Linked DNA regions of Homo sapiens. The protein of the gene in region 1 interacts with the protein of each later gene in a pairwise test. Each region holds a gene or a part of one and is shown on either strand. Other genes may lie near its edges.

Region 1 (3,959 bases):
CACAGCTGTCTTCCCGTGGTGTATGAACAAACACTTACGTCCACGGCTTCTTCCCCAAGATAGGATGGGCTCTTGCAGCAAACCTAAGAACACAGAGTGGCCTGAAGAACACGAAGTGGCTCAGAAGGCTCCAGGGAACATTATGGGAACCAACCGGGTGCTGCCAGGGCCCAGCTCATTCTCATAAATGCAGGAGGGCCACTTGCTTTACAAATGCTGAGTGAGCCTCTCCAGGGCGCCTGGAGCCAGGAGGTCAGGGACCAAGTCAGCATCATCCACCACCCTCTCCCCAGTCCCGGGCCCAGGGCCGGGCACACAGTGGGCTCTCAGGCAGCGGCGTTTGATTGCCACATGTACTGTCCTAAGTGCTGGCAATGCCATGGTGAATGAGGCAGCAGTGTTCCTGGAGATTCCACTGGGCTCTTCCCCGGGACAGGTGAGTGCTGTGTGTCACAGTGGCAGTGAGGCTGCAGGCAGGTGAATCGACACTGCCCAGCACGCAGTAGTGGGAAGGGTGTAAGCTCATGCAGCTGCCACCAGCCACCACTCACCTGTCCTCTTGCTTCCTAGGAAAACTCTCCCTGGAAGAGTTCATCCGAGGAGCCAAAAGCGACCCGTCCATTGTGCGCCTCCTGCAGTGCGACCCGAGCAGTGCCGGCCAGTTCTGAGCCCTGCGCCCACCAATCGAATTGTAGAGCTGCTTGTGTTCCCTTTTGATTCTTCTTTTTAACAATTTTTTTTTTTTTTTGCCAAACAATATCAATGGTGATGCCGTCCCCTGTGCGGTCTGATGCGCCTTCCTCCGTGACGCCTTCAGCTTCTTTTGTCGTGGATGCTTCGTGGGAATGCCCAGAGCCCCAGTGTGCTTGTGGAGAGCATGGACAGACTTCGTGGTGTTCATTGTTTGATGATTTTTAATCGTTACTATTATTTTTTTTTATTCTAATGTCTCTGTTCTAAAACGTAAGACTCGGGGGTTGGGGCAAAAGAAGGGAAACCCATCCAGTCCTGTGATTCTATTGCAAGCTTCAAGGGGCTTTTGTTTGAAAGACAAAACTCCCCACCTGAATCTGTTGTCACACGTGCCGTAGGGGTGATGGATGGCACCGGATGCTGGATTCCCCAAGAACAAGTTACCCTCTGGGGTGAGGCTATTCCAGCGAGCTGGGACATTTCCCCATGGGGGCCCACTCCCCTCTCTTCCCCAGCAGGCTGTAGTTTCTAAGCTGTGAACATTTCAAGATAAATTAACAGAGGAGAGGAAAAAGATGGCTCAGCTATTTTTTCACAGGTTTACACTAGTTGAGCTAATATGCGTGTCTTTGGAAATTAAACACAAATGGTAACATATTCCAAAACCAGACCCATCTTGTTGCCTATTGTGATAAAATAAAAAGACGGCTGTATATAACATATTGGGTAATGCAGACCAAATTAAGTGTTTTGCCTTGTTTAAATGAAATGCATGTTTAGTGAGCACTAATACAATCTTATTCCAGAAGACTGTTTTTAGTAGCTTATTGTGAAGTAAGACAACTATAATGAATGTCTGTCTTGTTTGGAAGTCATATCTGTCTTTGCACAAATGTACCAATCGACAAGTATATTTTATATATTCCATAAAAATACAAAGTAACCCTGACTAGGGCCCAACTTTAATTTTGAATGCATTTCCAGAGTGGCCATGCCTAGAGGGCAGATGCAGAGCAGGTGGTAGTGGGACAGGACAATTGGAGCACAGGAATGTTAACATGTATGACAGGGGACCAGTAGGGTGGTTTCCCTCTCAGGCCCAGCAGCCCATTGACAGCATTAGACTGGCGGCATGGTGCTTTTCTGAGCAGATCAATACTCTGCAGACTCGAAAAAACATCACATACATTCTTGGAACTTCCCAGTGGTTTAATCTATGTGCATGGTTAGGGAGCCAGGTCTGGAATATTCAGTTTCCCTGCCCCTGTTAAAGAATCAGAGGTTGGGCAGTCATCAAATTCATCATAAAGACATGGGCAAGTGTGTCTGTGGTTTCCAAGGCCCCCCTATGGAGAATCCAAAAGTATTTTCCATTGCCGTGCTCTTTGAATGCAGACTTCTATTTCCAGAAGTGACAGCACAAGTCTGAGTTGCTGTTTGGTCTGGTGACCTCAGACACACTAATTTGAATTGAAAGCTAAGAGTAAAAATTTGCTGGTTACAGGCGAGTCATACTCTTGCAAGTAGTTAGCAAAGGGAGGCCCAAATTCTCAAGGTTGTTGATGGGGAACTTGCCACTAAGAGAAGGCAGAGAGGTCCCTAGTGGGTATATTTGCTGCCAAGCCACTTGCCAAAGAAGAGGAACCACAGAAAGAGAGACATCATGACCAGGAGAAAAATGTGACTAGACATGCTAACCTCCAGGTTTTTATATATGACTTGAGTCTGCTGTAATTGGCAGCAGAAATCCAAATTTGTATGGTAGACCAAAAAGAACCAAATCCATAGGGTGAAATTTTGAGACCTAGACTCTGTAAAAATAATCCTAGTCTTCCTCCAGGGGTCAGTTCCTCACAGTGGTTCTGTACCAAAACTTGCCAAATTCCTCCATGGCCAAGTGTTAAAATCTGTGTTTGGAAAATAGCGAATTAACCTAAGACACAGAAGGCAGACTGGGTGAGGAGACCTAGCATGCCCTATTGGCAGTGCTCAGGAGCTGCATCCCACTTTTCCCTGCTCTGAATCGAAGTCCTAGTTCCTTCCTTTGATTCTCCTTTGGTAGGTGGAATCAGTTAATGTTTTGAGAAACCTGCCTGGGCTCTGCCCTTAGTCATGACATCTCGCTGAGCCAGACCCACTCTGTTCCTTGGAACCTAGAGCTGGAGTGAGGAGTAGAGGTCTCCGGCTATTCCAGAAAGAAAAGTGAGCCACATGCAGGCTGATGAATGCCGACACTTCCAGAATGTATAGAAATAGTCCCTGTCCTGGCCTGCCACTGACCCTGTCTGTATTTTCTCGGAGGTTGTTTTTCTCCTTCTCCTTCCCAGGAAGGTCTTTGTATGTCGAATCCAGTGCACTCAAGTTTGGCCAAGGGACTCCACAGCACCCAGAAGACTGCATGCCTCAAGGTTTATGTCACTCCTCTGCTGGGCTGTTCATTGTCATTGCTGTGTTCAGGGACCTTTGGAAATAAAACCTGTTCTGTCCCAAATAAAACCAGCCTGTGATGTTCAAGGGACTGGAATAAAGTGGCTTACGACCTGAAGGATTCTACAGAGTGCTCAACTGTTCATACATCATTCAGAGTGGGAGGGAGCTGGGGGTGCTGTCCCATCCCATCTGTATGCCCACGGTGGATTTAATAATATATAATTTATAAATCATAGCCTATGGAGTGGCCCGTAAATCAGTTGACTGTGTAGCTCTTGCCTGGCATTAAAGCATGTTTTTGGTTTAACATGATTTTCATGAGATTTTCATGCCTAAACTGCTGCCCCAGCTGAATCTGTGCCTTACTGAGGCTCTAGCTTCTGATACTAGCCTCCTCCTGGGTATTTTTCCTGCCTAGAGTGACACAAGGAACCAAGGTTTGTGAGGGGGGATGAGAGAGGCTGCTGACCCCAAAGTTCTGTCCAAAGGCATCCTTGGTCTTCATATGGGCTTCCTTACATCCCTCCCTCCATGGTCTACACTTCCTTCCCATATCCTCTCCTTCCTCAAACTAGAGTCCAAATGTTAGGTACAATAAAGGGAGAAACTGAGGCAACCTCCCCTTCAATGGGATCTGGGTAAGCTTCAGGAAATAAATAACCTCTTCACCCCTCTCAGCCTGAGAAGGTTCAGTGAAAAAGATGACATGAGGCAGAGCCTACACTCTGAAAGCCAGTTCCAATCATGGTGTTGGCTGTTGCTGTCATTGGCCTTGCCTCCAGCACAGGAGGCCGTTACTGTAGAGAAAAGGAGCTGCCATCTTGCTAACTTGAGTG
Region 2 (7,763 bases), on another chromosome or scaffold:
ACATGGGGCTCAGATTGAAGGGATAGATCAAGAAGCACTTTAACGCAAGAAGATGACTGCTAGTGTGGAGAGGAGAATCTTTCTCCCAGAAAACTCTGCAAATACTTGGTGACCAACCAGACCACAAAGCTGCGTGTTCAGGGGCTCCTTCCCTCCCCATTGTAGGGGTCTCTGGGAGTGGGGCAGGGTCTCCAGTCTGAACTCAAGCCAGGATTCAGACACATATAGACAATGCAGATAGGCCGGCCCCAGCAGAAGTGTATTTGTCTGAGGGGTTGAGGGGCCTCCAGAAAAATAATCCACATGGAAGGAAATGGGAATCCCACCTGATCAGCTTAACCCATAACAAGACTGAGTCCTTTGCAGGGCAAGGAGTCTGAAAAGAACTTCAAATCAGCAGATTGCCAGGGCATGAGTAGTACTGGCCAGGTATTTCCTTAATAGGTATAACATGAAGACGGGGACTAAGGTATTCTTCCTGGCTTTGAAACAGAACATAAAGCAGTTCTGGCTCCTTGAGGGCTTCAGGTGCTGAGCTATAGTGAGAAAGGGAACACCCCCGGGCTGCCCAGCAGGAGGTGGAAAGGCTGGAGAACAGGGAGATCCACGCAGGTGCCTGGCAATGTGCCCAGGCAGAAGCAGTCACATGCTCGTGAACATATGTGAGACATGCTCTGAAACTGCAGAAATATCTTGGGGGTGGTTTGTAGTGGGGTGAAGTTCCACATGAGTTGGAAGAAGCAAGAACTAGGGAAATGTGGATTATAACTGTTAATGGCTCCCACTGTGTAAGTGGGTGAGGCCTGGGAAAAGTTGAGTTCTACTAGGAAAGTACAAAGTTTAGGTTTCCCCAGGGAATAGCTAGCAAGATAATGGCTGCCTTGTCTTTGCGGAAGTCCAACCTGGACACTGTTGATCAGTTGAAACTGTTTCTCTTGAATTCTCCCTCATGTAGCAAGTTTATGAGCTGCAAATGTCCCTCTTTGCTCAGGCCTAGGGCAGGAATCCTTCCTCGATCCTCATCTCTACACATGTCCATCTCATGCCGATTAAATCCTGTGAGCAATCTCTACCACTAAAAAAACCAGGGATAGGTGCAGAGCTGCCTGTCTGAGCAAGATGGGGAGGAGATACAGGGAGGCTTCAAGGCCGCTGTGCCAAGCTCACACAAAGACAGACTTTGAGACAAAAGAGACAAAGACACTAAGCACAAACAGCTATTTTGTTTTCCACCTTATCATTTTCCACATTTTCCAAATTATCTATAGAAAAAGGCAAATGCTAGTTTTTCAAAACCAAATGTAAAAAGTACAAGTAAGCACAGCTTTTCACAATCTACGTGGATGAGGCTCATCTGAGTTTTATGTGCTTTCCCTTTTGGTCACCCATCAGGCATTTGATCCTGATTATGTAACACACAGCAGTCACAGAGAGCAACCACCTGATGTGACGGAGGGAGTTCTGCCATGCAGATGATGCGGAAGGTTGGTGTGGCTAAGCATTGCCAAATCTGACAAATCTGTATTTTGTGGTATCCCCCTTGGGGACAAGGACCCTGTTGTGGGAGGAGATAGACATTAACGTATTTTCCCACTCACCTCCACTGGATCTTGGCTCATCCAGCGAGAGTGATTGACAATCCCCAAAGGCTGTTGGCCAACTATTTGCAAGAGGGGTCCATGGAGAGAGGCCTCTTCCACCTGTTACTCTTTTCTCTATCACTTCACATCCATAGGGGTCCCTAAGCCCCAAGAGAAGGGTCAAGTGCAAATCTGGTAAGCCAAGAAGACCTAGCAGTTGTCAACCTAATTAGCCTTCAGGAAAAATATATGGCTATATGAGCACAGTAAAGTTGCTATAGAGACAGGCAGGGGAGGTACATTCAGAACAGGGCCTCATCGCATCACCCGATAAAAATAAGACCCAGGCTTTTTAATAGCATGAATTACTTAAGTTTTAAATTTAACAGGGGACGACACCAAGGCTCTCACTGGTTTTCAGAACATTTGAGGAATCTGGGCTGCCTGCTTCTGCATATGTTAGCAGCCATCACAACATATGCTGTGGCGGATGGCAATGAAGAACTGGAAGCCCACGTGTCTCTCCCACACCGTGAGATGAGAGATGGTCTTTCTCACTTTGGGTTTGTCCTCTTTAATTGGGTGAGAGATTTTCAATGTGTTTCAGGGAAATTTCTGGGAAATAGCTATACTGCGCTCTGCACTGGCCAGTTGTATGTATTATTGCTAGTCACTGTAACAACCTTAGGAAGTAATGATATCATTTTGCAGATGACAAAATAAGCTCAGAGAGGTCCAGAACTTTCCTAAGGTCACACAGCTACTAAATGGTGGAGTTGAGATTCAAATCCAGGTGTCCCCATTCCAAAGCCCATTGCTTTATGAGACATCAACCAGAACCTCTGCACAGAGAGGAATCCAGGAAGAGATGAATCTAAGGAGCGTTACCATTTTTATTGGTATATGACATGGACCTTGTTATAGTTTAATCTCTCTCCTAAGGCAGTCCCAAAGTGGATGGGTTCCAAGAAATTCCACAGAGATTCTGAGCTCTGCTGGTGAGCACCTCTCCGATTATCCAAGGCAAGTGTTAACTTCAGACTGACTTCTCCTTACCATCCAACATGTTTCTGGACTGTCTCTTCCCTAAGTGAGGACCACCAGCATAATTAACACAAGATTCCAAACAACATCACTGAGAAAGTGTCCCCACTGCTCTTGCATCCATGAAAGCTTAACTATATGAAACCCAGCTGGAAATCCAAAGTGAAGTTCTTTTTGTTGACAACTTTGTCTTCGGATTATTCATGAACCTTTTACTTTGCAGAAGGATTTTTAAAAACAGTTTTCCAACAAAGGCCTACATAGTAGACTCAATCTGAGCCTATAAGGCATCATCTTTCCTCATGGGAAATGGCAGTGCTGGTGATGATGAGATTGGGTATGGGACAACGGCAGTGGAAGGGAGAGGAAGCCAATGGGGAAGTCAGGGGGCCGTGGTGACAGTAGGAACAAGTGGTGCCTATGTCCCTCCCCATTCAGTTTACCAGCTGAGGGTAAAGACAGACATCTGGGCTTCACAGGATTTCAGAAGGCATGTCTAGGGCAACACTAAACACATGGCTTGACAGAAATTTGAACCAAAGCATCGAACCCAGTGAACGAGGCAGAAGGGCAGAGAGAAGGCAGGTAGAAGCCACAGACCAGAGGCTGGGACCCAGGGCACAGCAGAAGGTTTAGAATCAGAGGGAAGGCGGTGGTGCCTCAGTAGAGTCCTTGGGCCATGGAACTCACCCCAGGAGCTTTTCCAGGCTGCCTGCAGCCTGCAATGTGGGTGTAGAGTGTGGCTAAGGGAGCTGCCTGCTGGGACCAGCTCTACTGCTCAGGACACTCAAATCCATCTGTATGCCACTGTCATCACCCCACACATACTCTCTCCAATCCCGGCAAAATCAGTGCTAATGTCTCACCAACAGATTAAGGCCTGGATTGAAGTACAAGAAACAGGATTTTTAACTCAAGTTAATTCAATTCCCCAGCGACCCTTGTTAACTTATTCACCCTCAGAGACGTATTAATAGTTCTGTCTTATATTGTATAGAAATTTGTGCAGTGAGTTTTCTGGTAGCTTTACATTTTTTTTCTCACTTCAGTTAGACATGTAATCTATTTAAAAGTAATATGGGAATAAGATAAATCAGTGTAGGAATAACTTCCTGGCAGAAATATTTTTACTAGTTTCTGAGTGTAATATCAGCCCAGCAAAAGTTATCTGCAAATATAGAAGTTCTCATGTACATCAAAGACACTCAAGTTTTTTTTAAGAAATAAATCATTTTATGCTACTGAAATAACTCTGTGATGTGCTATTGGCATTTAAGGAGCTAAACAGACTCTATGGGCCAGCCAACTTCTACTGCAAGCATTAGACATGCACAGGCTTTAGACTCAGGCACACCTTAGAAGTTCTGGCTTTGCTACTTATTAGCTATGGTAACTCGGGCAGGTCATTTATCCTCTCTAAGCCTCAACTTCCTCATCTGTGAAATGGGAATAATATCAGTCACATGCCAGGGATAAATCCAGGGAGAATGGCCAGGGGGCTGTGTCAAAGGCCAGACACAACTTCCACCCCAGGTGAATGTCGGGACCAGGACAGTGAGCAGGCAAACCTTGCCCTTGCCCTCCTTCCCTCCACAATCTTAAAGCTCCTTGAACAACCCCCATCCCCACCCCCTGAGAATGTCTGTGCCCTCCTGCTGAAAGGGTTTGGCCTTTCAGTGTTCCCCTCCACCATGAGCTGTTTCCATGAAAAGATCTCAAGGGTGACTTGAGGCTACGGTCATCACTACCACAAGCCTTTTCCCATCCCTGCCTCTACCTATTGCCCTCTAAATAAGGAAGCCAGCGCTGCCAGGCAAAGAACTTCTGCCCAATATGGGTCCTGGGTGGCCTCTCGCCTCTCTCTTTCCCTGGGCCCCCAGCCAGCTCCCCCCTCCCCCAGAGATGCTCCCTGCTCACTTCATTCCTGCCTCATAGTTGGAATGACAGTGGCTCCCAGAACCCCTGGGGAGTGTGGAGGGTGATGGGGGTCTGGGGAGGCAGCCAGGCCCAAGAGCAGGTTAATGTTACAGCCCTGGATAAGTGAGCTGGGCGGGTTGACGTCAGGGCGATGATGGGTGGAGGGGAGGGCCGGGCTGCTGAAGCAACTATAAAGATAGGTCAAATCAAATATCATCAACTAGGGACGGAGCAAGCGGGCGAGCTAGAGAGCGTCCCCGAGCCATGGTCTCTACCGGCCGCGGCTCAGCCTGGGTCCCTCTGCTCTCAACCCGAGTGCCCGATGGAGGCTTTGGTTTCATGTCAGCAGCCTTCATCTGCCTTCCAAAAATAAGCCCCTGCCGCCATGCCGGAGGGAGAAAAACAAGAAGGGCGGTATTTTTAGGGCCATTAATTCTGACCACGTGCCTGAGAGGCAAGGTGGATGGCCCTGGGACAGAAACTGTTCATCACTATGTCCCGGGGAGCAGGACGTCTGCAGGGCACGCTGTGGGCTCTCGTCTTCCTAGGCATCCTAGTGGGCATGGTGGTGCCCTCGCCTGCAGGCACCCGTGCCAACAACACGCTGCTGGACTCGAGGGGCTGGGGCACCCTGCTGTCCAGGTCTCGCGCCGGGCTAGCTGGAGAGATTGCCGGGGTGAACTGGGAAAGTGGCTATTTGGTGGGGATCAAGCGGCAGCGGAGGCTCTACTGCAACGTGGGCATCGGCTTTCACCTCCAGGTGCTCCCCGACGGCCGGATCAGCGGGACCCACGAGGAGAACCCCTACAGTGAGTGCCAGCTGCAGCCAGTCGGGACGCTTGGGGGTTTGGGCTCATGCAGGGCTAAAAGGTGAAGGGGCCCTGCTCTAGCGGACAGGATGCACGATAAAGGGGGCAGAAATGCTGCTCACCACTTAGATGATTCCACGTGACCCTGCCTGGGTGCAAGCTCAATATACTGCGGTCCAAGCATCCTGGTGTTCTTTGCCATCGCCTTGGTTAGATCCTCAGTGGCACTAACTATTTCAGCATTACTGGCCCATCTGATGCCTTGTAAGACCATTAGGAACCATTAGTCTGGGAAGCCCCCAAGGCCTGGGTAGGGAGAATCAGTTAGTATACTTGGATCAAATTTGACACAAGCTCATTTTTATTCAGCTTCTTTCTTGGAGAAGGAAGGGAAATTCAATTGCAAAATGTCCAACTGAAGCACATCCTTCTTTTTATTTCAGCGGCTCCCTCTGTCCCCAGGTTCTTATCCTGCAAGCTGCCTGCAAGCTGCCAGCTTGCTGTATGGTTAGTCTCCTATCCAAGAAAGGATGGGGGCTGCAGGATCCAAGAAAGCCATCAGCTATGGTGTGGCTGCTGTGTTTTCAAGATTAAGTGGGTTGAGATTTGTTGAAACATGTAGAGTACACATTAAGAAGAAGAAGAAGAATCAGAATTTATTTTTTTACTCAAGTCAAGGACCTCAAGTAATTATGTCACTGAAAGCCCAGATTCAAAGCTCATCTTAAACAGATAGCTAAGTGGTCACTGCAGCCCCTAACTCTGCTATCAGAACCTTCCCTTGCAGAACTGGATTTCTAACAGCACAATGGCAGCACTCGATGAGTCCAGCAGCCAGGGTCTCCTAGAGTTAGAGGGATCATGGATGGGGCAATGGAGAGTCTGGCTTTCTAGGAGAAGGGGGATGGACTGAGATGCCCTTGTCGGCTCAAGTTCCCACTCTGATTTGCACAAGCCTTAGGTAATGTGGCCCCCCTTTCCTTGTCAGGCCTGCTGGAAATTTCCACTGTGGAGCGAGGCGTGGTGAGTCTCTTTGGAGTGAGAAGTGCCCTCTTCGTTGCCATGAACAGTAAAGGAAGATTGTACGCAACGGTGAGTTCACCAGGCCGGGGAAGTGCCAGGTTTACAAGGCTTGATGCTTACACAGTTGAAGAAAATAATATGAAGTCCTGAGTAGAGAAGTGACTATCTAAATGGGAAAGGAAAGGCTGTGAGAGGAGCCTGTGAAAGGGAGGGGCCTTGCAGCTTGTGCTTCTTCAGCCTCACGGGTGATTGTCCTCTGCCCTGGCCCGTGCTTCTTCTGTTCCCACCTGCCGGCCGGAGCCCGTGTGCTTAAACGGAAACCACAGCTCAGGGAGCCCGTGGGCCAGAGGGAAACCCACATTCTGGCATCCAGGCTTGTGAGCAGGTGTGATTCCCTGCACTGGCGAGGCCCCGAGAGCAAGTCTGTCTCTCTGCCTGGGTGCGCTGCTCCATGACACGCGCCCTGCAAGATGCCCCAGCCTCGTGCGCAGCAGGAGGAGTGGAATGGGAGGCTATTTTCATCCTCATCAGTGTGCTGAGATTCTGCACTAGGGTTTTCAATCCTCTGGTCTCCGATCACGTACGCTAGAGAAGCAGCCTACCCGTTATACACTTTAGGCTGGTACCAGTCCCACCCATTCCCATCCCCACCCCCATAGGTCACCTCTGGGAGTGCCAATGCTGGCACTTGGGTTAATGCAACCAGCTTCTAAGCACATTGACGAAAACCTCTGCTCTCACTGACCTACTCTTTCCTGCAGCCCTCGGCCCATCATTTGGCTTATTCCAAAATATGGCGGGGCAAACATCCCGATGAGGCTGAAGAAATGGAGAGTTCCTTTGACAGAAATAAGCAAGCTAAAAAGGAAGACCTCAGAGCAGGCCTCAAAAAATATCAAAGTTATTTATGGGGAGGGTGTGGAGAGCTGATCTACTGCCCCTTGGAGGATAAACTGAGGACTGGGATGTGAAGAAATAGATCCAGGACTGGCACTGGGTCCCAGGGGAGCTGTCCCAACAGAGGAGGTCTATGAAATACAAGAACGGGTTCACCAGGTGGCCTCCACCCCATAATCTTTAGTGCTAACATCTCTCAGTCTGGGTTGGTTTATGTGGACATACGGCATGCACTACAATCAGTGGGTCTCCCACACGGGTCTGTGGACAGTTTGCATCTCTGTCACCTTGGAAACTTATTAAAAGTATGGATTTCCAGGTACCTACCTAGGAGATTCTTATTCAGCAGAGCTGGCGTGTGGGCCTGGAAATCCATTTGTTTTTGTATTTTAAATTTGCCAGGTGTTTCTGAGGAACAGGCAGGCTTGGGGGTCAGCAGGCTACATGGCCTCTGGAGGGCAGGGGACCACCCACTCCCCATGTTACACTGAAC

Evidence for each region. The genes of interacting proteins can lie anywhere in the genome.
Region 2: the proteins of NCALD (region 1) and FGF6 interact in binary tests that used the Homo sapiens proteins (3 or more experiments, as listed by UniProt).

The regions. Positions count from the first base shown.
Region 1 is NC_000008.11:101,686,018-101,689,976, reverse strand, and holds the end of NCALD (neurocalcin-delta), read left to right. Parts: intron 1-570; coding exon 571-668; 3' UTR 669-3,435; downstream 3,436-3,959. UniProt on the Homo sapiens protein: May be involved in the calcium-dependent regulation of rhodopsin phosphorylation. Binds three calcium ions.
Region 2 is NC_000012.12:4,442,812-4,450,574, reverse strand, and holds the start of FGF6 (fibroblast growth factor 6 precursor), read left to right. Parts: upstream 1-4,759; 5' UTR 4,760-5,004; coding exon 5,005-5,350; intron 5,351-6,338; coding exon 6,339-6,442; intron 6,443-7,763. UniProt on the Homo sapiens protein: Plays an important role in the regulation of cell proliferation, cell differentiation, angiogenesis and myogenesis, and is required for normal muscle regeneration.